Regions from separate parts of the Homo sapiens genome. Here region 1 is linked to region 2. Evidence: fine-mapped expression QTL. A gene starts in region 2. The other region holds a variant in brackets. All regions are shown on one strand. Distances are from middle to middle. Region 1 overlaps PALS1 (protein associated with LIN7 1, MAGUK p55 family member). Region 2 holds the start of EIF2S1 (eukaryotic translation initiation factor 2 subunit alpha).

Region 1 (11,349 bases), 49 kb before region 2:
TTGGAGTCTCACTCTTGTCACCGAGGCAAGCAGTGGCACCATCTGGGCTCACTGCAACCTCCGCCTCCCAGAGTCAAGCAGTTCTCCTGCTTCAGCCTCCCTAGTAGCTGAGACTACAAGTGCATGCCACCACATCCAGCTAATTTTTGTATTTTTAGCAGAGATGGGGTTTCACTATGTTGGCCATGCTGGTCTCGAACTCCTGACCTCAGGTGATCTGCCCGCCTTGGCCTCCCAAAGTGCTGGGATTACAGGCATGAGCCACCGAACCCGGCCTATTTTCATATTTAAAGTAGGGATCTTTTCAGAATAGAGTGATGTGCAGTATTTTTCTTTTCCTTCTTTTCTCTTTTGTTTTTTGTTTTTTTTGAGACAGAGTCTTGCTCTGTCGCCCAGGCTGGAGTACAGTGGTGCGATCTTGGCTCACTGTAACCTCTGCCTCCTGTGTTCAAGCATTCTCCTGACTCAGCCTCCCAAGTAGCTGGGATTACAGGCGCCCGCCACCATGCCTGGCTGAATTTGTGTGTGTGTGTGTGTGTGTGTTTGTGTATTTTTAGTAGAGACAGAGTTTCACCATGTTGGCCAGGCTGGTCTTGAACTCCTGACCTCTGATGATCCGCCCACCTTGGCCTCCCAAGTGCTGGGATTACAGGCATGAGCCACCATGCCCAGCCCCTTCTTTTCTCTTTTTATTATGAATAACTCTCAATTGCAATATATCTTGCCAAGTTTTGTCAGACCTAACTGGCTTAAAATGAACTGCTATTATTAAAGCTCATTGAGGCTGTCCAGAAAGGAAACAGTAATAGGAAATCATAATCTTGGTTGACATATGCAGAATAATTATCTATGGAATTAATAATCTAAAGAAATTAGAACCAATTTATTGAGTATCATTATGGTACAGGTCAGCATCTGTTGATAGCAGCAGCAGCAGATATCTTCCTGATTTATGTTTTGTGATGTTAGAAATGTGTTTAAGACAGATATACAAAATAAGTGTTATCTGAAACCCCTATATAATGACTTGTTGAATTATGATGTCATGTATGGCAATAATAAGCTGTGTCAGAAGTGCTCTCTTGAGTTCTTAAATTTCTTTTGTATCACACATAGCAATCAGTGGCTGCTCTTTCAGTAGCAGAGGGCAAGAGTCTTGGCACCTCTGTATTTCACTTCCTGAGTAACTGGCACATTTGATCTAGGAAATGCATACATTATTCAAACGTACAGTTTCCTTCTCTCGGCCTTTTTAAAAAAAGGAAGGATTGGATTTCCCAGACTAGTTTGTAAAACTTTAGATTATTCTATACTATAATAATATGTAGGGAGGGCATAATAGACTTTTATCTGAATGGGACTTTTTCATTTAGTCTAATGCCATAATCTAACAAGGAGTGTATTTAAATGAAGAAGGATCACATCGCTTATTAGTTACAGAATATGTACCAGAAAATTAACAGATTATTGATTGTTTAATACATATAAGCTATTATTATGATTATGTACTCTGTGCCAGGCACTACAGAGATAACTGTGTTGTAAAGAAAAGTTGAGAACCACTGCTATCAAATACATTGCTTTCCCATTATAGGTATAAAAATGTATTAATAAAGACATTTATTTCTTGGTGGATGTGGGGAAAGGAGAAATTCTAGTGTTGTGTGGAGATACTTAAAAACTTGCTTGGTGCTATAAAGGCTTTCCTTGACTCACTTTCACTATTTTCTCTTCTACAATGAACTTTAAGAGTTAAAGATAAATCTGCGATAGTAAGAGATACAGAAATAAAAATTACAAAGAAAAATATTTTGGTAGCAGAGATGTGGAATCAACCTAAATGCCCATCGATGATAGATTCGATAAAGAAAATGTGGTATATATACACCATGGAATACGAATGCAGCCATAAAAAAATGAGATCATATCCTTTGCAGGGACATGGATGGAGTTGGAGGCCATTGTCCTTAGCAAACTAACACAGGAACAGAAAACCAAAAACCACATGTTCTCTTACATGTGGGAGCTAAATGATGAGAACACGTGGACACATAAAGGGGAACAACACACACTAGGGTCTTTCAGAGGGTAGAGGGCAGGGGGAGGGAGAGGATCAGGAAAAGTAACTAATGGGTACTAGGCTTAATACCTGGGTGATGAAATAATCTGTACAACAAACCCCCAACACACAAGTTTACCTATGTAACAAACCTGCAGTTGGATCCCTGAACTTAACAGTTTAAAAAAAAAAAAAGTCAGTGTAAAAAGTATAAAAGCCAACCTAATACTTAGACAATAGAAAAGGGAAAAACCAAACTTCCTTTTTTTTTTTTTTCTTTTTTTTCTCTTTGATTTTGAGGGCGTCACCAATGTGATAGCCTTACCTTCATGAGTACTAACCTTTCCATTAAGCTAATCCCAAAGTTGTCTCCCAAGTACACTGTCCAGGTGGTTGTGGCAAATTTATACTTTTCCAAAGGAGTGTCCATTGAGCAAGTGGAATATAGATCCTGAGTTTTAGATCAGCACTCTCCAAATATTTTTTTCTTTTTCTTTTTTTTTTTTTTTTGGAGACAGAGTTTCACTCTGTTGTCCAGGCTGGAGTGCAATGGTGCCATCTTGGCTCACTGCAACCTCCGCCTCCTGGGTTCAAGTGATTCTCCCGCCTCAGCCTCCCAAGTAGCTGGGATTACAGCTACCCTGTACCGTGTACAAGTACCATCTACTGTGCCACCAGCTAATTTTGTTTTATACCTTTATCAATTAAAAAACATTGAACATGTCCCCTCCCATATTGTATATATATGTACTACTCTACTTACTATCCCAAATTACAATATAGGACAAGTTTTATTAATAAGTAATTCTAATAGCCTTCTTGATTGGTTGAAAAACAATATTTTGGAACATTGGATCCCTAAAAAACATGTAAATAAACTGATGAATCATTATCCCTGTACCCTATCCCCATTTCATCATTACGACTTCAAATGTGAACAGCTTATAGATATTAAAAAAAGGAAAAAGAAAATGTTGGGCTGGAAGATAATTGCGTCCAAACAGTTCTACAATTTGAAATGTAAACAGAAGATTTTGTTTTGTTCAGAAGCCAAATACTGTTTTGATCAGATATACTGTTCTGATATTATTATAGCATTATGAGGCCCTGGACCTTTCCTATGAGGGTCAGCTTATCTCCTTCATTTTAAAGGGGCTTTTTTTGTTGTATGAGAAACAAAATAATTTTGACACTAGCAGGAAAGATTGGTGGAGATAACTTCTAGAACTGGTAAGAATTAATCAGTGGAATATATGGATAAAAGTCATATAGTATCTGTTAAGGCAATACCCAGACTTTAACTCATTCAAATCATTAATTTTTCAGATGTGAAATAAATTTTCCTTAGGAAAAATTAATAAGAGCCTTTTCCTCTTAATTTTAGGAAAGTAAGAGCTTTTTCTCTTAATTTTAGGGTATATTTTAGATGGGACTAGAGAAACTTGTCACATAAGTAAAGCATGTTCTCTTCCCAGCCTACACAAAGAGGGGCCCTGTTCCAAGCCAGTTAAATTAGAATAGTTAAGGGATGAGAACTGCATAGGCAAGAGTACATGGAAAAGCATCTCTGGGTGATTTTGTTGGCCTATGGCAATGGTCATAAATGTAGATATTCCCTCCTCACGGGTCTTAATTTCTCTCAGGGTAGTAGTTCCCTAAGATTGCTGTACCTAATAATTACCCAAGGAACCTGATTAAAATTCAGAGTCTGAGAGTCTGAGGTGCGGCATGAGAATTCATCATTTTAATAAACATCCTAGGCAGGTGATCTGAGCAAAAACACTTTGAAAAACAACATACTGGGTAGGCTTTCAGAAAGTGATTTGATAAAATTGTCAATCAAGATTGACAAGTACTTTGATTTGATCTTTGAAAAATCTGGTAAAATTGATCTCTCCACTACAAGTGATGCCAAAAATTCCATTTTTAGATTCTCAAGGTTTTTTTTTTTTGGCAAAAAAGTAACAAACAGATTCTAGAAGTATTATTGATAGGATGGTGCTCAAGCACTTTTTTTTTTTTAAAGAAAACATATTTCTAGATAAAACTACATAGGAGATTTTTCCTCATGCCAAGATTATAAATTTGTATAATCTTTTTGCTCAATCTCTTAACTGTGTTTTGATTCACTGCTATCCCACACAACTTTCTAAAATTCATTTTTAGTGCTGACTGAGAAAGATTTCAAGATTTTAATAAAAACTGTTTTTTCACATCTAGAATGAGGTTCTTTAGGGCACTTTGCATTTAGGATGAGCCACAACACTTTCAAATTTGGTGTGTTATCTTAACTATATTTGGTACAAGATTATATACTATGCTATTCCATGTATATGAATTAATATACAGGGGAAAATAATCAGTGTTTCTAGAAATCAGGATGATGTTTATCCTTGGAGGGGATGGGATGGGTAGTGATGGAAAGAGACCAGGTGGGGCCTCTGAGGTGTTGGTGATATGATGGTTGTTGATTTGGATGCTAGTTATACAGGTCTGTTTAGTTAGTGAAAATTCACTATGCTATACACTTATGATAATGTGTATTTTTTGTGTATCAAAAGTTACTCCCAAAAGGCATAATAACATTTAAGTTTTGCTGGTAGCTGTTTAACTTTTATATCTTTGTATTTTTAACCAGATCATTTTTTAACCTTAGTTTCAGTTTGTATATTAGGACTCAGCTTTATTTCCTATTTATAGAAGTTAATAAAATATTCTTTGAAATTAAAAAATATTCTTTAATGACAAGCCAAAAATTTTTTAAAAAGCCATTTATCTGTCTATCTATCTATCTATGTCTATCTTTGTCACTTAGCATTTTTTCCAATTTCATATAGTCTGTCATCGACAGTACTCATTTTAGTCAGTGTCTCAAGTGCTTAAAGAGCGCTTAAAAAGTGCCCCTTTTGGGGTAGACTGGTATTACTTTTATTACATATAACCTCAATTATGGTGAGAGTAAAACACTTAAAGCTAAGGCCAGGCGTGGTGGCTCGTGTCTGTAATCCCAGCACTTTGGGAGGCCAAGGCAGGTGGATCACCTGAGGTCAGGAGTTCAAGACCAGTGTGGCCAACTGGCGAAATCCTGTTTCTACTAAACATACAAAAATTAGCTGGGCGTTGTGGTGAGTGCCTGTAATCCCAGCTACTCGGGAGGCTCAGACAGGAGAATCACTTGAACCCGGGAGATGGAGTTTGCAGTGAGCCAAGATTGTGCCACTGAACTCCAGCCTGGGCAACAGAGCGAGACTCCGTCTCAAAAAAAAAAAAAAAAAAAAGCCAAAGCCAAATAATATTTGGATAGAAATGGACCTTGAATTCTTAGACTGTTTGTCTTTTGCTTGGTTCGTTGAGCCTGAACTTGGAATTTAACCTATGTGTGACAGAAATGCTCACTGCAAATATGTGGGCAGAAATGCTCATTACAAATTTGTGTGAGATCTCATTAGATGAAGTAGATTTCTTATAGATTTTGGAAGTGTCACATGCAACTTGCCCAGGTTAGGTAAAAATTAGACATGGGGAAATTAAAGAGAATTTTAATTCCTTTATAACTTCTTAGAAGTAAGAATAGTCTGTCATATCTTACAGAGGCATATTGGAAGAAATGGCATACAGAATAGCTTATAAAGTTCATGAGAGTTACTACCTGCCCTTAATGCTAAGTAGAATAGCACAATTCTTTGATTTATTCTGATTTCCAAAAACACATTATTAGCAAAAATTATAACTTGTACCGTTAATAATATGTCAAAGCCTACATAGCATACAAATAAGAATTGATTATAAACTTGATTTAGTTAATTTTAGTCGTTGATAGTGTGCTTGTTTCATGAACATATCCTTTAAAAGAAACGCCAAGAGAGTTTAAGGCATAGTTGGACTGACAGTGGGGTCAAGAGACAATGACAGCCCCAGGGAAGCTCATATTTACCTGCTTAGATGAAGAGATGTGGTAAGGTAAAGTGTACCTTTTCTAGTAGCTGTGGTTTGGAAATTGCATACCTTATTGCAGAGTCATTGTTTTCACAGGTCAGGATTCTATTCTATTTCTGCTTCTCTCAAGCTTTTGAGGCACCTTGTACCTCAGCTTGTAGCTGCGAACAGTGTTGTGGATATCCTTGTACATATCTGCA[A/G]GTCAACAGAGAAGATAACAGATCAGCCTGAAAAAATATTGCCCAAAAACACTGTTACTTAACACCCTTCTTCCAACTACAATTTCTTTGCACTGATGAAAAATTGTGGCCAAGTGCAGTGGCTCACACCTATAATCCCACCACTTTGGGAGGCTGAGGGAGAAGGATCGCTTGAGGCTAGAAATTTGAGATTATCCTGGACAACATACTGAGATGCTGTCTCTATTAAATTTTTTTAAAATTAAAAAATAATAAAAAATTTGTAGCATTTAAATTGTATTCATATGAAACATTTTATATTGCCATTTATTGTTGTTTTTGCCCTTTTTATCTTTTAGATCCATGTAAAAGCTCATTTTGACTATGACCCCTCAGATGACCCTTATGTTCCATGTCGAGAGTTAGGTCTGTCTTTTCAAAAAGGTGATATACTTCATGTGATCAGTCAAGAAGATCCAAACTGGTGGCAGGCCTACAGGGAAGGGGACGAAGATAATCAACCTCTAGCCGGGCTTGTTCCAGGTAAGACACAATATGGTAGAAAGTACATAATATTAAAAGAACATTGAAAATGCAAGCCTTCACAAAGAAAAACTCACTCTTTCATGCCTCTATTTAATAAAGTATTCCAGTTACTTTTTCGTGTAGTTGGGTTTTTATGTTGTACCTGCAGCGTAAGTATATTAAATAGAATGTGGCCAATTCTTTGGCCTTTAGAATGGAATTATGTATAACTTCAGCCAATCCCATATTGTAGTACATTTCCTGTATACATATTAAGATGACCGTATTATCGAGGCAATACAACTTGTATTATACTATATACTATATACTATGACATTAATTGGAGCATCAACATGATTTTTGAGAAGGAAAGATGCATAACTTTATAAGGAGTCAGGAAAAGTAACATCATAGAATTTATTGTACCAAACGTGATCTTAGGGCAGAAACAGGATGCTCCAAATTTTTTATTGATGAAACTATCCCTAACTTAGACTAAACTAAAACTTTAGCTTACATTATAGATTAAGATTATTAAGGGGACATGTTTCTGAGAGTTAAGATGATACAAAATAGAACAAAGTACAGTCATGCATCACTTAACGACAGGGATAAGTTCTGAGAAATGTGCCATTAGGTGATTTCATTGTTGTGCAAACATCACTGAGTGTATTTACACAAACCTAGATGATATAGCCTGCTGTACAGCTAGGCTATGTGGTATAGCCTATTCCTCCAACCACCATCATATATATGGTTGGTTGTTGACTGAAATGTTGTTATGCAGTGCATGACTGTATGTAGATATAATTATTTTCTACAAATGGCTCTTACAGTTCCCAGGATGGCAGTAGAATAAAGAAAGGAGAGCAGAACTAAGGGAAGTTTAATAAGCTATCGGAGAAGGCAAAGGAATACATACAGGATGATAAAAATAGGGATATAGAGTAAAGGGATAATAATTCATCCATTTATTTGTTAATAAATGCTGTTATGTCTGCACCATGTAAAGCACTTTGCCTGGTGCTGAGATAAACTTCGCTTACATACTTTACTTGAAAGCATATCCATTAACACTTATGTATATTTTTTTCTTCTGTGTCCCCTACTTTATAATATTTTCATGATATTGTCTCTGTTATAATTCTTTCTACTGTATATGCTCAGTTTATAAACTTCTTGATGTCAGAGGCCAAGTCTTATTTGTTTTAAATCCAGATAATATATGTTAAATTAATGAATAAAAGATGATTTTAAAAGTTCTCAGAAAACAAACAAAAATTAAAAAAAAAAAAAATAGTTCTGCCAGAACTGCTGTTTCTGAATTAGACCTTTCAATGCTTTGCTGTAATGTTTTTCTGGCCTTATCTTTTATCTACAACCTTTTTTAGCGATCATCCCTCCTACTCACACCAGAAGATTTTAAGCATAACAGATTTGGCTATAGACTTAGCCTTACACTGGATTTGACAACAAGCAATAGTTTAGGGGAAAAGAAGAAAAGGAGGGCATGAAAAAAAAGACTGAGAAATATTGACTATGAGATACATAGTAGGAACAGAGGAAGTTGTCCAAAGATTTTAGAATAAGTTATAAGGAATCTCTTTTATCTCTGTAACTAAGCCAAAGAGACTTTTCTGGGTACAAGAGATTTCAACATAATATTTACATTTATTCTTTTTGAGTATAAGGTCACAGAAAGCTTCAAATTTCTCACTTTAAAACTCAGAGGCTAGAAACAGATTTTGTCTATATCAGTCATATTTTAAGGAAGGAGGAATGGACTTCTTACATTTATTTTAGAGTATGATGCTAAAACCCGTGATTCTTCAGAGTAACAGTTACAGGACATTTCTCTAGAATCTTGGAGTGTTGGGTAGCCATTGTGGTTCTGCCTCAGGCTTGTGCCAAATATCAGTATGGTGTCTTCCTACCATGCCGAACTTTAGCCCATAAATGTTTAGAACTAGTGTTTGTTGATAGATTGATTTTCTGAAAGTATATAGATTCCAATGATGACATTTCTAAGTCTTTTTATAAGACTAAAGATCTGCCTTAGAGTTTGACGATGGCTTTCCATCAGAATTAGACAGATTTTTTTAAGAGGTCATTATGAGGCTGGCCCTGGTGGCTCACACCTGTAATCCCAGCACTTTGGGAGGCTGAGGTGGGAGGATTGCTTGAGCCCAGGAGTTTGAGACTAGCCTGGGCCACATAGTGGCATAGCTGACATAATGAGACTTTGTCTCTACAAAAAATTTAAAAATTAGCTGGGCATGGTGGTGCGTACCTGTAGTCCCAGCTATTCAGGAGGCTGAGGTGGAAGGATTGCATGAGGCTGGAAGGTTGAGGCTGCAGTGAGCTTTGATCACACCAGTGTAACAGAGCAGTCTCAGAAAAAGAAAGAAAATCATTTCCATCTCTCATTAATTTCTGCCTCTATTTCAGAATAGCCTATAGTTCATACTACAAAAAGTGCCACAGAAGTACATCATTGTAATGTTTTACATTTTTAATATGTAAATGATTAAAATTACTTTGTTCTTGATTTTTAAAAATCGGTTACTTATTTTTAATTTTTTTTTTTTTTTTTTTTTTTTTTGAGACAAAATCTCGCTCTGTCTCCCAGGCTGGAGTGCAGTGGCATGATCTCAGCTCACTGCAAGCTCCGCCTCCCGGGCTCATGCCCTTCTTCTCTCTCAGTCTGCTGAGCAGCTGGGACTACAGGTGCCCACCACCACGCCCAGCTGATGTTTTGTATTTTTAGTAGAGATGGGGTTTCACCGTGTTAGCCAGGATGGTCTTGATCTCCTGACCTCGTGATCTGCCCACCTTGGCCTCTCAAAGTGTTGGGATTACAGGCATAAGCCACTGCACCCGACCCCTTTAAATTTTAATACTCTTAAAATTTTCCTTCTAGTAATAGTTACTTGTACTAAGAATACAGTCTTGGCCGTGCACAGTGGCTCATGCCCCTAATCCTGGCACTTTGGGAGGCCAAGCAGGAGGATCACCTGAGATTAGGAGTTTAAGACCAGCCTGGCCAACATGGTGAAACCGAGCCTCTACTAAAAATACAACCATTAGCTGGGCATGGTGGCGGGCCCCTGTAATCCCAGCTGCTCGGGAGGCTGAGGCATGCGAATCCCTTGAACCTGGAAGGCGGAGGTTGCGGTGAGCCAAGATTGCGCCACTGCACTCCAGCCTGGGTGACAGAGCGAGACTTCGTCTCAAAAGATAACCAGGCTTCCTTTAATGCTTCTTATGTGTATGGAAGTCAGTATTAATCTTTTTGTTAGTACACTTACGAAATGCACTAAGTTCTACAGATTATCCCCACCTATGTAGAATTTGCTTATTGATTTTTAAGAATCTCTGGCTTTACACTGAAAAAAAGTAGATTTAAAAATAAAATAAAAAAGTGGAACCTCAACGTAATTCAGAATCTTCTAAGTGAAGCCACTTGTATCCTATAGGAAAAGACATATTTGATTTAAAGTAGAAGTCGGAAAAGAAAACCTCTTTCAAGGTCAGGAACCTTGAAAGCCTCCTATATTAAAATATTAATTTTGTAAGGAAAAGCACGTTTTCCATTTATATAATTGGTAACTTAAGGGTGGAAATAAAAAATGGCTAACACATATACATACACAAAAGAAGAGGAATTGAGAATAATGCATGCAAGGGAATATACTGAATGGTTTCTTGGAATTGAATATGGAATTGAATATGTGATGAATGCGCACATGTTGTTTTGGAAAAGTTAATTCCTAGAATTGATATCCTTAATTTGAGATAATTCTAAAGGACCTAGAACCATTGTAAGATCCAGGATAGTACTTTTCCACAAAGTAAATGCTCAATGAAACCTTTTAAAAAGTTGAACTATTAAATTTTTAAATATTTTAGTAGATGATATGTATTCTAATAATACATATGGGATTGATTGAGCAGAGTTAATATTTTAAAAATTTGGAGGCTTACACATCATAGCTGACATTACTCCTGTGTTGGCAAAAGGATTTGGAAGGGAATATAAGTGAAGAGATATGTCTAGTGTTTTCCCTTCTTGATTAAAAAAAAAATTCTTATCCTTTTATCTTAAATATTTTACCCTTCTTTTTCTTTCTGCTATTAAGGGAAAAGCTTTCAGCAGCAAAGGGAAGCCATGAAACAAACCATAGAAGAAGATAAGGAGCCAGAAAAATCAGGTTAGACACTTGTATTTGACATAAGTAAATGGTTTCTTGGGTCTTCATCTGGAGCCATGTGTGAATCTGCATATTAGAACCGTGAAGAAGTACTCAGGGAAAGAGTGATACAAGAGGCAAAACTGATTATCTCAGAACTGTAAAGAAAGGATAAGATTTAAGTATTAAAGATTATCTGTCTATACTGTGTAGTTAATTGAAAATTGTAAATGCTTTCCTGAAAAATAGTCTTTATACAAACAGTGTAATAAGTATTTATAAAAGTAAATTAAAAACAAGCTGGGTGTGGTGGTTTGCACCTGTAATCCCAGCACTTTGGGAGACTGAGGCGGGAGGATCACTTGAGGCCAGGAGTTCAAGACAAGCGTGGCCAACATATGGAGATCTCGTTTCTGCAAAAAAATTTAAAGAATAAATGAATGAATAAATAGAGTTCTTC
Region 2 (11,349 bases):
AAACTGACATTTCTGTTCTTGCTGCCATATGCCAGATACAATTTAATAATGAAAAAAGTGGAGCCCAGTTCGAGGATGTAGAAGTAAGACCCTGTCTCAAAAAAAAAAAAAAAAAAAAAAAAAAAAAAAGACTAGAAATAAAATGTCATACCATGCAGTAGTACATGCTACAATAAAATTAAAATAAGGAATTATGACAGAAGCAAACATGGTGTTCACTTTAGATTGGGTGATCAGGAACAGCCTCTCTTAAGAGACTAGAACAGCCAAAGGAGCCAGTTATAAGTTCCGGGGAAAGAGTATTTCAGGCAGGAAAAAGAGCTAATGAAAAGTACCTGGAGGACCTTAGGAAGAATGCTCTAAATAAGGTAAGTGGTACAGTGGCTTATGTCTATAATCAGCACTTTGGGAGGCTAAGGTGGGTAGATTGCTTGAGTTCAAGACCAGCCTGGGAAACAAGGTGAAACCCTGTCTCTACAAAAAAAAAAAAATATCAAAATTACCTGGGCATGGTAGGGCACACCGGTAATCCCATATACAAAGAAGGCTAAGGTGAGAGGACTGATTGAGCCCAGGAGGTTGAGGCAGTGAGCTGTGATCATGCCACTGCACTGCAGCCTGGACAACAGAGCAAGACTCGGTCTCAAAAAAACAAGTGTTTGGGTAATAAAATTCAACAATAAGGTTGTATAACCTAGACACAGTATAACCTAGACACAGTGATTTAAGGGGATATAATTTCATATGACTGGTGTTTTAAAATCGCATGTACTAATAAACTTTTTTGGCCAGGTGCAGTGGCTCACACCTGTAATACCAACACTTTGGGAGGCCGAGGCAGGTGGATAACTTGAGGTCAGGAGTTCGAGACCACCCTGGCCAACATAGTGAAACCCCATCTCTACCAAAAAATACAAAAATTAGCTGGGTATGGTGCTGCATCCCTGTGGTCCCAGCTACTCAGGAGTCTGAGGCACAAAAATCACTTGAACCTGGCAGGCAGAGGTTGCAGTGAGCCAAGATCGGGTCACTGCACTCCAGCCTGGGCAACAGAGGGAAAACCTGCCTCAAAAAAACAAAAACAAAAAAAAAAAAACAAAAACAAACAAACACCATTTGGCCAAATTCTTAAATTATACTGGAATCTTTTACCATAGGGCTAAGATCACTAAGACAATTCTATAGCTGAAAGGGACTTTAGACATTAACTTAAAGATTAGAAAAATGAGGCTTAGAAAAGTAAAACAACTTTCTCAAAGTTACTCAGTGAAGAAAAGGCAGGGCAGGGACTTGAACCAGACTTTTGATTCCACTGACTTTCCCAATGCTCAAACTAAGGCTCCAACCTACGTTCACTGTACCCCAAACATGTGCCTCCCCTTAAAGAGAACAATTATCACTGGCTGACTCTGCACTGACTGGTCTCACAAGAGGTCTTATCAAGTGAAGGTCGTTTAGTTTCCAGCCTGAGAAGGAGCTATCCATCTCAATGTGTGCATTTAACATAATGTATTGTTGATAGTAAATACTAGAACTTGGGCTCAAAGAGCTGGATCAAATTTAAGTCAAATTGTAGTACTGCATATTCCAGCCAGTTTATAGTAAAAGGTAAACTGGTTGATAAAATTGAATTTACCATGTTAATTTTATTTTCCTCCTAGGGAATGGCATCTTTGTGAAATGGGCAATTTTAATTCCTGAAACTCTAAGAGCAGCGTGCACACTTACAGCTAATATGTAGCAGAACCTGGATTTAGTGGACTTCTGTTGACTCCAAATTTTTCATGCGTCTTTTACTTCCACTCTACAATTGTTTTTGCTTTCTCTGGTACGAAAGTGGGTGAAAGTAACATCACAGAATAATACTGTTGAATGGAAATGTCTGTGAAACAAGCTGCCAGTATATTTTCTAGCCTATGGCTTTTAAAACTTGCTCCTTTACATGTTTCAGAGCTGCTCAGTCCTACTCAAAAAGTTTGACCTTTAGCTAGGATGATGACTTTTCTTCCAGCTGAATCAAAGACATCTGACTACATGACAAAAAGCCTGCTGCCAGCCATGGGGAAAATATTTAGAGAAGAGATTATTTCCTGCACCTGATTTTCCTCTCAATCAGCAAGCTGAGAGCTTTCAAATAGTAGTTTCACCTTCATGAGCCTATCATTTTCTTACCTAAGCCCAAAGATGTCTATTTTTGCCTCTTAGTCTCAAAGTAAAAGTTTCAAAGTAAAAACAAAAAAGTTATTCTGACTGCTGTCAAAGATAAACCCAGCCAGACATTCGTTAAAGTAGTGAAAACAGATTTTATTCAGTAAACCACTGATAGTAGGGGAAAGGGCTGAGCTCAATTCTCATTTGTGCAGAGGTGACTGGCCATTTTAAAAAAGAGAGTAAGGGAGTGGCAGGGAGCCAGCCGCAAGAAGAGTCAGAGAAGAGAAACCTTAAAGTGTTGGTCAGTGTAAACGCCATACTACCTGGCAATTAGTAAGTTACTATTCTATCCTCTCACACAGACTGGGAGACAAAGCCCCTATCCCTCCTGATGATTACGTTTCAAAGAAATGGCTCTCAAAGATACTTGAAGGGACACTTCAGAGTTGGAAGAGATACATATTAACAATTGTAAGCCTGTTTCGTAAATGCTCTAAAAAGGGAACGAGAGGGGTCTATCAATTAGGTGTTGACTAGAACAAACAGTAAATTCTCCCCCTAGCTTTGAGCTTTTTCAGGCAGGCATTTTAATGGCGGGGGCGGCGGGGGGCGGCCTGGGGTCACCCTAGGGGCAGGCCTTACATTGCTAGAAGATAAACTAGTGTCGATGTCTTTCAGTGCAGAAGTTTTGACTGAGTCATCACGTCCTAGGAGTTCTGCAGTTGTCACTACCTCGGGATAGTCCTCATCTTTATTTCCCCACAACTAGCTTGCTGCCTACTTAGTGCAAACAGCTATTAGAAAGTCAACAGGTGAAGGTAAAAAATTTAAAAACTTCATTTCATTAAGAGCTATTTAGTCACCGGGCAGAAAGAAATCTGGGCTTCAGGTTTGAATATAACTTTTATTTTAAGCATCCTCAGATTCTCTCAAAGGACAGAATGAGGAAAAACAACAAAACACCCCCACAGAGATAGGACCACAATAAAAGGGTCTAAATGTCAGGGTCAAAACTGATTTTCTGCTTCCTCACTGAAAAGAAAAAGGGAAAGCCAGGCGCGGTGGCTCCCATCTATAATCTCAGCCGCCAGGGAGGCTGAGGCCGGAGGATCACTTGAGCCCAGGGGTTTGAGGCTGCTGTGAGCTCTGATCATACCACTGCACCCCAGCCTGGGAGACCCTGTCTCTTATTAAAACAAACAAACAACAAACTAAATAAAAATAAACAGGATGAGGAGGAGAAAGGGAGCAAGTTGTTAGGCACATTTGAGAAAACGTCAAAATTTTCCTTACAAACTAGCCAAACACCTACAGTGATATGCCATTTTCCTGACAAAGAATTCAGGCCCCAAAAGAAAGGCAGCCCACAACTGAGCGTATTCCCAAGCATGAGTTCTTTCAAGAAATATTTTTTTGTGGACCTTCTATGGATTAAGACACTCTTTCATCCTGGAGAGAGCCCACAGTCTAGTGGGAGAGAAAGACACATAAACAAATATCTACTTTACAGCGTGATGACCGGTATTAACACAGGTCTGAACAAGGTGCAGCGGTGAGAGAGCAAAAGCAGTGCCTCAGAAACACAGGGATATCCTCTCACAGCAGGTGACATTTGGCGGGATCTTGGAAAATGAGTAAGGGGATCCAAGATCGAATCCGAGGGCTATGCTAGGGCGATTCGATTCCATCCCCACTTTGGCTTAGGGACCTCTTCTATATCCTCAGTAAACTTCCCTTCTCAGAGCATTTATTAAAACCTCCTTGGCCTTTCCAGACGAATGTCTGGCTACGTAAACTGTGAGCTCTGTAGGGCAGAGGTGGCGACGGTTCAGTTATATAAATCCAGTGCCCGGCTCAATAAGGGTATGTGGAATGGATGAATCCATTAATGAATAAAGACAGCAGACCTCCACAAAAGCCCGCCGGCCGGGCGCCTTTTCCTACCGGCTGGGATCGCTTCGTCCAGCCTGATTCACTCAGGAGGAATGCGCGAAGAGGCCGTCAGGAAGCCTCGCCCTAGACTCAAGAAAAGAACCTGGGAAAAGCTCAGGATCCTCCCAGGAAACAAGGACCCTCACTGTGGCCCAGGGTCTGAAGGGACCGCGCTCCGGGTTCCTAAACCTGTGAAAGCGGCTTATCCCATTCCTTTACTTACATTCGCGAGGGAAAGATTTCAATTCGGTCTTTGCCCGACATTCTGACGATAACTTTTCGGCTCGGGTCCCCGGCCGGGCAACCGAGGCTGCAATAGCTCCAGAACTGGCCTCCACAGTGTCTTCCTCTACGGGAGTCAGCTGGTTGTGTCACTTGACCCCTCTTGTTGCTAAGAGGCAGCAGGGACACCCATTTTCACTTCCGCTTCCGGTTGTCACAGGCGACGAAGGGGGAGGACAGAACAGAGGCGTTGCCCGGATGTCGAGGCGCGCGCACCGCGGAACCACCCCTCAATTCCGGTTCGCCTCCCAACCCCTCCCCATCCAGCTTCCCTGCGGCTGCGCAATACGCGGCACGCGCCAGGCCAAAGACTAGGAGCGAAGCGTGCACGCCTTGTCTTTCTCCACCTTTCGTCTTTGGTCACAGCGCCATCTCATGGTTAGCTGAAACTTTGAAAGAGGATTCATTCTTCAGAGGCAAGGAATCGGAGTCCTATGTCTTTCTCGCGCCTTGAAGGTTACTTAGCTAAAGCTAAGATAGCGAGAAACAGTACTTTTCAGGTCCTTCCATGATCTACATTCGTCCTTGTTCTCGGAGGACCCAGACTCTATGGTTAATGATGAAGAGGGGCCTCTATTCGTTCAGCGCTTGCGCATGCGAGGAGGTTCCGCATGCGCGGTGGAGTGAGCGAAGCGCACGCTGAGGAGGATCGGCGGCCGGTGAGGGGGAAGCAAGTCTGGTCTCTGTGATTGAAGAAGTCGGCTCTGGGCTCCAGTGCGGGAATCACACACATACCTCAGGTGACTAATCCCAAGCTCGGTTTCTCCAGGAACTCACTTTGGTTTGTGTCCAGTGACATGGGTGTTCGAGAGCGGGTAGGCCCCGGGCTAATACCTCCCTTTCCCGTCCCTGCGCGGGAAGTGGCTGGACAGCACCGCCACCACCCGCGCTGTCGTGGGCCTCCTCGCCGGCTCCGTGTAGGTCATCCTGTGTTCCAGAGGCATCGTTGTTCGAGCAGAGGAATCTCGTGAAGGAAAGTGGGCCGAGTGGATTGTACAGCCTCTACAATATGCCGAAAGTGAGAATGCCATGACGATGGGGCGGTCTCAGGAGAACGCTGTGACACCGTAACTCTTAACCCCGGCTCAGGACGCTGAGCACTTTGCTTTTTCCAGGCTTGAGAATTCCATCTTTTCTTCCGCCCCAACAGCTCTACCAAAAATTTCCCCTGCGTCTCAGTGGAAACCAAACTGGCCTCTTACCTGAGAAACCTGTGGGACGGGCACCGTGTTGGAAAGAGCGGGGTCCGAGTAGTTTTTCATCTGATAATTGAATGAGTCACCCCTTGAACCAAAACTAAATGAGACTTGAGTTTATTACTGTTACTATCAGTTTGTCGTATTTTGGCGACAATGAGAATAGAACTGTGTTAAGCATATGTTAGGTTAACTATGTTAGTTAAGCATAACTAAAACCTAAGATAAGGATATATTTTCGGGTTAAATACACAGTCATGCTGAGGTCTCTTTATCCTCAAAACTTAGGCTTTTTAAATTTTTATTAAGCAAAAAACATGGTTTCTTCGAGAAAAAGTATAGCAGAGAAGTCTTTATTTCCCCTCAATTGAGTTGTTATTCAAGGAACAATCTCTGTCAATAGTTTGGGGGTGACTTGTACAGAACTTTGCTACCTATTCTTAGTTCATCTGGTGCCAAAAGATGTAGTTGTCTCATGCACAGTAATGTTTGTAGAGATTCGGTGATAACTTTCTTTTTCAACTATAATGATGAAATAAAAGCTTTACTTATGTAGCACTCCTATACCAAGAACTAGCATTCAGAGAGCATTCCTAATACGTGTTAGATCCAAATTAGAATTATCACGAGAGTTGTCCCCATCACATAATATATTTTGGAAAGGAATGTGAACTTCTATATCCATTATAGCAGTTTGACCATGCACTGTTTTGAGAAAGAAGTCCTACCTACCATTTGTCATGCAAAATAACTGACTATGCAGGGTATTTGAAATTAGCCTGGAGTTTGGTTGATATATTTTGAAAGGTGGCTGATACTTTTTACATCAGAACACATAAGAGTATTATAGCATGTTGTGATATTGAGGTTCTGTGGGTTAAAGACATTCTGGATTTGATGTCGGATTACTTGAGTTTAGCTCCTACGCTAGTACTTATTAAGCATTTGTTCTTAAGGAAGTATTATAATTTAGTATTTCTGTTCCACCTTTCCTGTTCATTGCTTCACTGTGCCCTTTCATAGTACTTTGTATTGTAATTATTTGCTTGCTAGTTTGTTTCCCACTCTATACTTAATTACTTAGGTAAGAGTCTTTTTTTTTTTTCTTTTTTCTTTTTTCTTTTTTTTTTTGAGACAGAGTCTCTGTTGCCCAGGCTGGAGTGTAGTGGCACGATCTCAGCTCACTGTAGCCTCTGCCCCTGGGTTCAAGGGATTCTCCTGCCTCAGCCACTATAGTAGTGGGATTACAGGTGCCTGCCACCACACCCAGCTAATTTTGGTATTTTTAGTAGAAATGGGGTTTCACCATGTTGACCAGGCTGGCCTCGAACTCCTGGTTTCAAGTGATCCACCCGCCTCGGCCTCCCAAAGTGCTGGGATTACAGGTGTGAGCCACTGCGCCTGGCCTGGTAAGAGTCTTTCTTGTTGTATCATTAGTGCTTAGTACATAGTAGCTACTGAAAAAAAAATTAACAAATTATTATATTACAAAATGGAAATACCTTCTTTTTCTTTCAATATTTTATGTTTGACTAGCACATAATGGTTTTCAAAATGTTTTTACGTATACATGTGATACCCTCAGTAAACCTGTGATGTACATGGCACAGATGAGAAACTACAGTTCAAAGGATGTTATCTTTCCCAAGCAGCCACTTCTAGTAAGTAGCAGAGCAAGGACTGGAACACAAGGCTAGAGTTGTTCCCCGAGTTTACTATGTTAATTGCCTGATTTGACACTTCTTGAGGACCAAATAAAATAAGAATGCTGTGAAAAAGATAAAGAGGTGAAGTCACCTAGTGTGACTTCGATATTGCGGAATGATTTTTTTAAGTTAAAAAAAAAATTTAAGTTATTAGCATTTCATTAGGCAATATGTTCAAAAATTGTCAACCAATATGCAGGTTTTTGTGGTATGGATTCTTTTTGTACTTAACTACTATCTATCTTTACTATGAATAACATACCATCAACAGTATTCCTTTACTTACCCTTTATGTTGCAAAGAGACTTGTGCCTCCTGAAGAAATAGTATTCATAGTCATATCCCTTCAGGATTCTCTTACATGATTGCCCATGTTTTTTAACCATCAAATTAAGCCTTGCTTCCCCTAAAAGCATCACCTTTACTGTTTGGAGAAGCTTGGTAAGTAAATGTGGTTTTCACTGGTCAAATGTCTTGCAACTGTTCCATACATTTCTGTAACATAGTTTATTTTTATGCCCAATTTGAAACTTTTTAGCTCTCAAATTTGAGAGCTTTACATACACATATTCAACAACAGTTTCCCCACCCCCACCCTCGAAAAGCCCTGTTTAAAAACGAAACAAACAGTCAGCTGTTTCTTGGTGGGTAAGGCCATTGAATGTCTACTTCTCTTTATTTGCTAAATCCCTATTTTGTAGGGATTTTGTATTCCCTACAAAGAAATACATCTCTGCTACTGTCATTAATATGCTGCTCTTTGTTGTCAAACAGATGAGTACTAATAGTTTGCACTTATTGGTGTTATGTACTCTGGCACTGAATATATATTAATGTTGCTTTTTAAGTAAAATGTTTCTAATTATAATATATTTATGAATAGTTTTGAGAGAATATAGTCTTACTGATAAGAGGACAGACTCTGGATCCAGACTTCATGGATTCAAATCCTGACTCATCACCTGTTAGCAGTATGTGAAAGAACAAGTAACTTAACCTGTGCTTCAGTTTTTTAATCTATAAAATGGGGAGAACTAGGGAGAAAGTTGTACCACAAGGAGATAGGCAATGGCCAGATCATATAGGATTCTGTAGGTAGTGGAAAGATACATAAGTCAGTGGGAAGCCACTGAGAAGATATAGGCAGGTGCCAATTAATAAGTTATTATATGAATTTTCACAAGGTTTTCTTAGGCCTTTAAGTTCTGTTACTACCTACGTTTTGAGCAGTGACAACAGTGAAGGTTAACAGAAAAACATGAAAATCATCAGCCATGATTAGTTTGAGAGCTTCCTTTTTTAAATATGCTTCTACCCAGGCTATGATTTCAGGCTTGTGGATCATAAAAGGAGTAGTGCTGAAAGTAGGTTGGGTGGATCAAAGGGAATAATTGTAAATATCTTTAATGCTTGGAGGTTAAGAGAAACTTGAACTTTGTAGTAATGGAGATTAAAGCTATTCTCAAGATTAGGTATACCTATTCAATAAAAGAAAGGAATATTTGGGAGTATTGGGGATAAGAGAAGCTAGACATTGTGAATTCAAGGAAAAAGAATTATGAGAGGAGGATGCATTTTAGTTTATTTTGTGATTAAAATTTTTTTAGTTTTTGTTGTTTTGACATGTGACACTGTAATTTTGGCTATAATAAATGACAGAATGTATCATTTGGTATATTGGTTAGGGTTTAGGTAGAAAATTTTTTCCTTTATATAGTGAGTGGTAGCGTATACAATGTTTGCTCACTTCGGCAAAGAGTAGCTTTAGTTTTCTGATTAGTTATAATAGTGATGCTTCCCATCATTTGATATGCCTTAAAGTAGTATTTTACTCTTGAGGTATTCCTTTAATCCTTAGGTCTTGGAGTACTTTATAGATGGTCATTATTTTTTATGATTCCTCTGAAACTAAAGGCAGAGAATCACCCAAGCATTACAAAAATGTTGAGCAAAATAAAAATTAAAGCTTGGTTCCTGAACATTATCTGTTTTCTGGTACCACTTAAGAAGTTTCAAAGGATGAGAAGACTAAGACTAATAACTATTTTTTTCTTCATCTTTTCTTTCAGTGGCAGGATGTGGAAATTGATTTTTTTTTTATTTTCACCTTAACTGAATACTTACTTAATTCTTTTGTTTAAATTGCAGAATGCCGGGTCTAAGTTGTAGATTTTATCAACACAAATTTCCTGAGGTGGAAGATGTAGTGATGGTGAATGTCAGATCCATTGCTGAAATGGGGGCTTATGTCAGCTTGCTGGAATACAACAACATTGAAGGCATGATTCTTCTTAGTGAATTATCCAGAAGGCGTATCCGTTCTATCAACAAACTCATCCGAATTGGCAGGAATGAGTGTGTGGTTGTCATTAGGGTGGACAAAGAAAAAGGTAAGTGAGAAAAATATCTGTAATATAAATTTCAGATTTAAAATGGTTTATTTAAAAATACATTTTTTGTAAATTGCAAGCTGCAGCTTAAAAAAAAAAGCTCCTTTTATACTTAAACCTTTTACATACAAAGTTGTTAGAAAAGGATGCCAATTAGCTATCTAAGCAAGATCTCTTAATAGTAGTTTAATTAGTACATCCTAGGATTTTATGGATCAGATAACTTGAATTTTATTTCTAGTGTTTATCAGGATCTTGATAATTGACTCATGGTAACCAAACTTAGAGACAGGTAAGTCAGAGTACTAGTTCATTTACATTGGTAGGCCTGAATATGTTGGATGCCTTTTTCTTGATTTAAAGCTAAAATAGTAATGAGATCACTGGGTAAGCATGAAAATGGGGCAAATGGATTTTAGGGATCTTTTATATAAGCTTTGAAAAAGCAATATACTATGCGTGTATATACACACCTGAAATCCAACATTGTATATCTTGCTGGTAATTAGAATGTTTGCATCTACCAGATCTCGTGGTATCTTTCAGACAGTTTTGGATGAGCATTCATTTTTTACTTATTGGATGCCTTTTCTGGGCCCCATGTAAATCATCACCTTTGTGAATACTCTTTTTTTAAACATGGTGTACAATACCATTACGTAGGTTTTAGTTTCAGCCATCTTACTATAATTTGTTAGGTGTTAGTTTTAGGTCATTAGTTACCATCATGTCCGAAAGGCTTCATATCAGTCACCTTGATTCAACTTACCCTTCTGAATCTCCTCAGCCGTCTGGTTTACTGATACTTTCTCACTTCTGCAAGTGATTAATTTTATACATACTGACATTTTAATTTTTTTTATTATAGCCTTAGATGATACATAGATTTTGAGGATGTCTTATGCCTTAGGTAGTGACTGCTACTTAGCACATGGATTGTTTTAAATGTTTTGCTATGACTTAGCTATAGCCCCGCCCAAAATTATTAAACTACTTTGAGACTATTTGTTAAACTTAGGTAAGTCTTCACATCACTGTCCTAGTAGTACCTAAAGTAGTGTCTAATCTTGTACTTTTTTTTTTTTTTTTTAAGAATTGGGGTCTTGCTCTGTCACCCAGGCTGCAGTGTAGTGGTATGATCATAGGTCGCTGCAGCCTTGAACTCCTGTGTTCAAGTGTTCCTCAAGCAGTCCTCCCAAGTAGCTGGAACTACAGGCATGTGCCACCCTGCCCAGCTAACTTTCTTTGTAGAGATGGGGTCTTGCTGTGTTGCCCAGGCTAGTCTTGAACTGGGCTCAAGCGATTCTCCTGCCTTGGCCTCACAAAGTACTGGGATTACAGGTGTGAGCCACTGTGCTCAGCCTTCTTTTTCTATTGTATAAAATATACACAAAAGGAGGAATCAAATATGTTTTTAGTTGCAATCAGAAAAAATATGGAATGGCATACTTGCTTACGTACAGTAGATACATGTAAAGATATTTCCATAGCATTTGTTTGTATGGCATTAACTAAAACCAGGAAATGACCAAAATGGGGACTGGTTAAATAAATCAGTACAAATGCGTGCAATGCAATTTTATGCAGAATGAGATCTGAATATTTTGATATGGAAGATCTCCAGGATAGGATGAGAAAAAGCAAAGTGCAAAAGAGCCTGTAGAGAGGATTCATTTTGATACTAGAGAATTA

The links. PIP is the estimated chance that this variant, and not a neighbour inherited with it, causes the effect.
Region 1: its variant is fine-mapped to the expression of EIF2S1 in tibial artery (GTEx, PIP 0.98).

Annotation. Positions count from the first base shown.
Region 1 is chr14:67,305,994-67,317,342 of GRCh38, forward strand. It overlaps PALS1 (protein associated with LIN7 1, MAGUK p55 family member), which reads left to right. Exons shown (of 15, transcript NM_022474.4): 9 at 6,534-6,717; 10 at 10,839-10,910. It also overlaps a transcript of GPHN not described here. Among named protein-coding and RNA genes, the nearest start is that of ATP6V1D, 48 kb to the right of the region's middle. The variant A/G (reference allele first, on the strand shown) is at 6,196.
Region 2 is chr14:67,355,352-67,366,700 of GRCh38, forward strand. It overlaps EIF2S1 (eukaryotic translation initiation factor 2 subunit alpha), which reads left to right and starts at 4,977. Exons shown (of 8, transcript NM_004094.5): 1 at 4,977-5,105; 2 at 9,416-9,657. The coding sequence starts at 9,417. ATP6V1D (ATPase H+ transporting V1 subunit D) reads right to left here and starts at 4,453. Exons shown (of 9, transcript NM_015994.4): 1 at 4,307-4,453. The coding sequence starts at 4,347. It also overlaps a transcript of GPHN not described here. RefSeq lists enhancers at 3,564-4,350, 4,193-4,412, 4,433-5,232.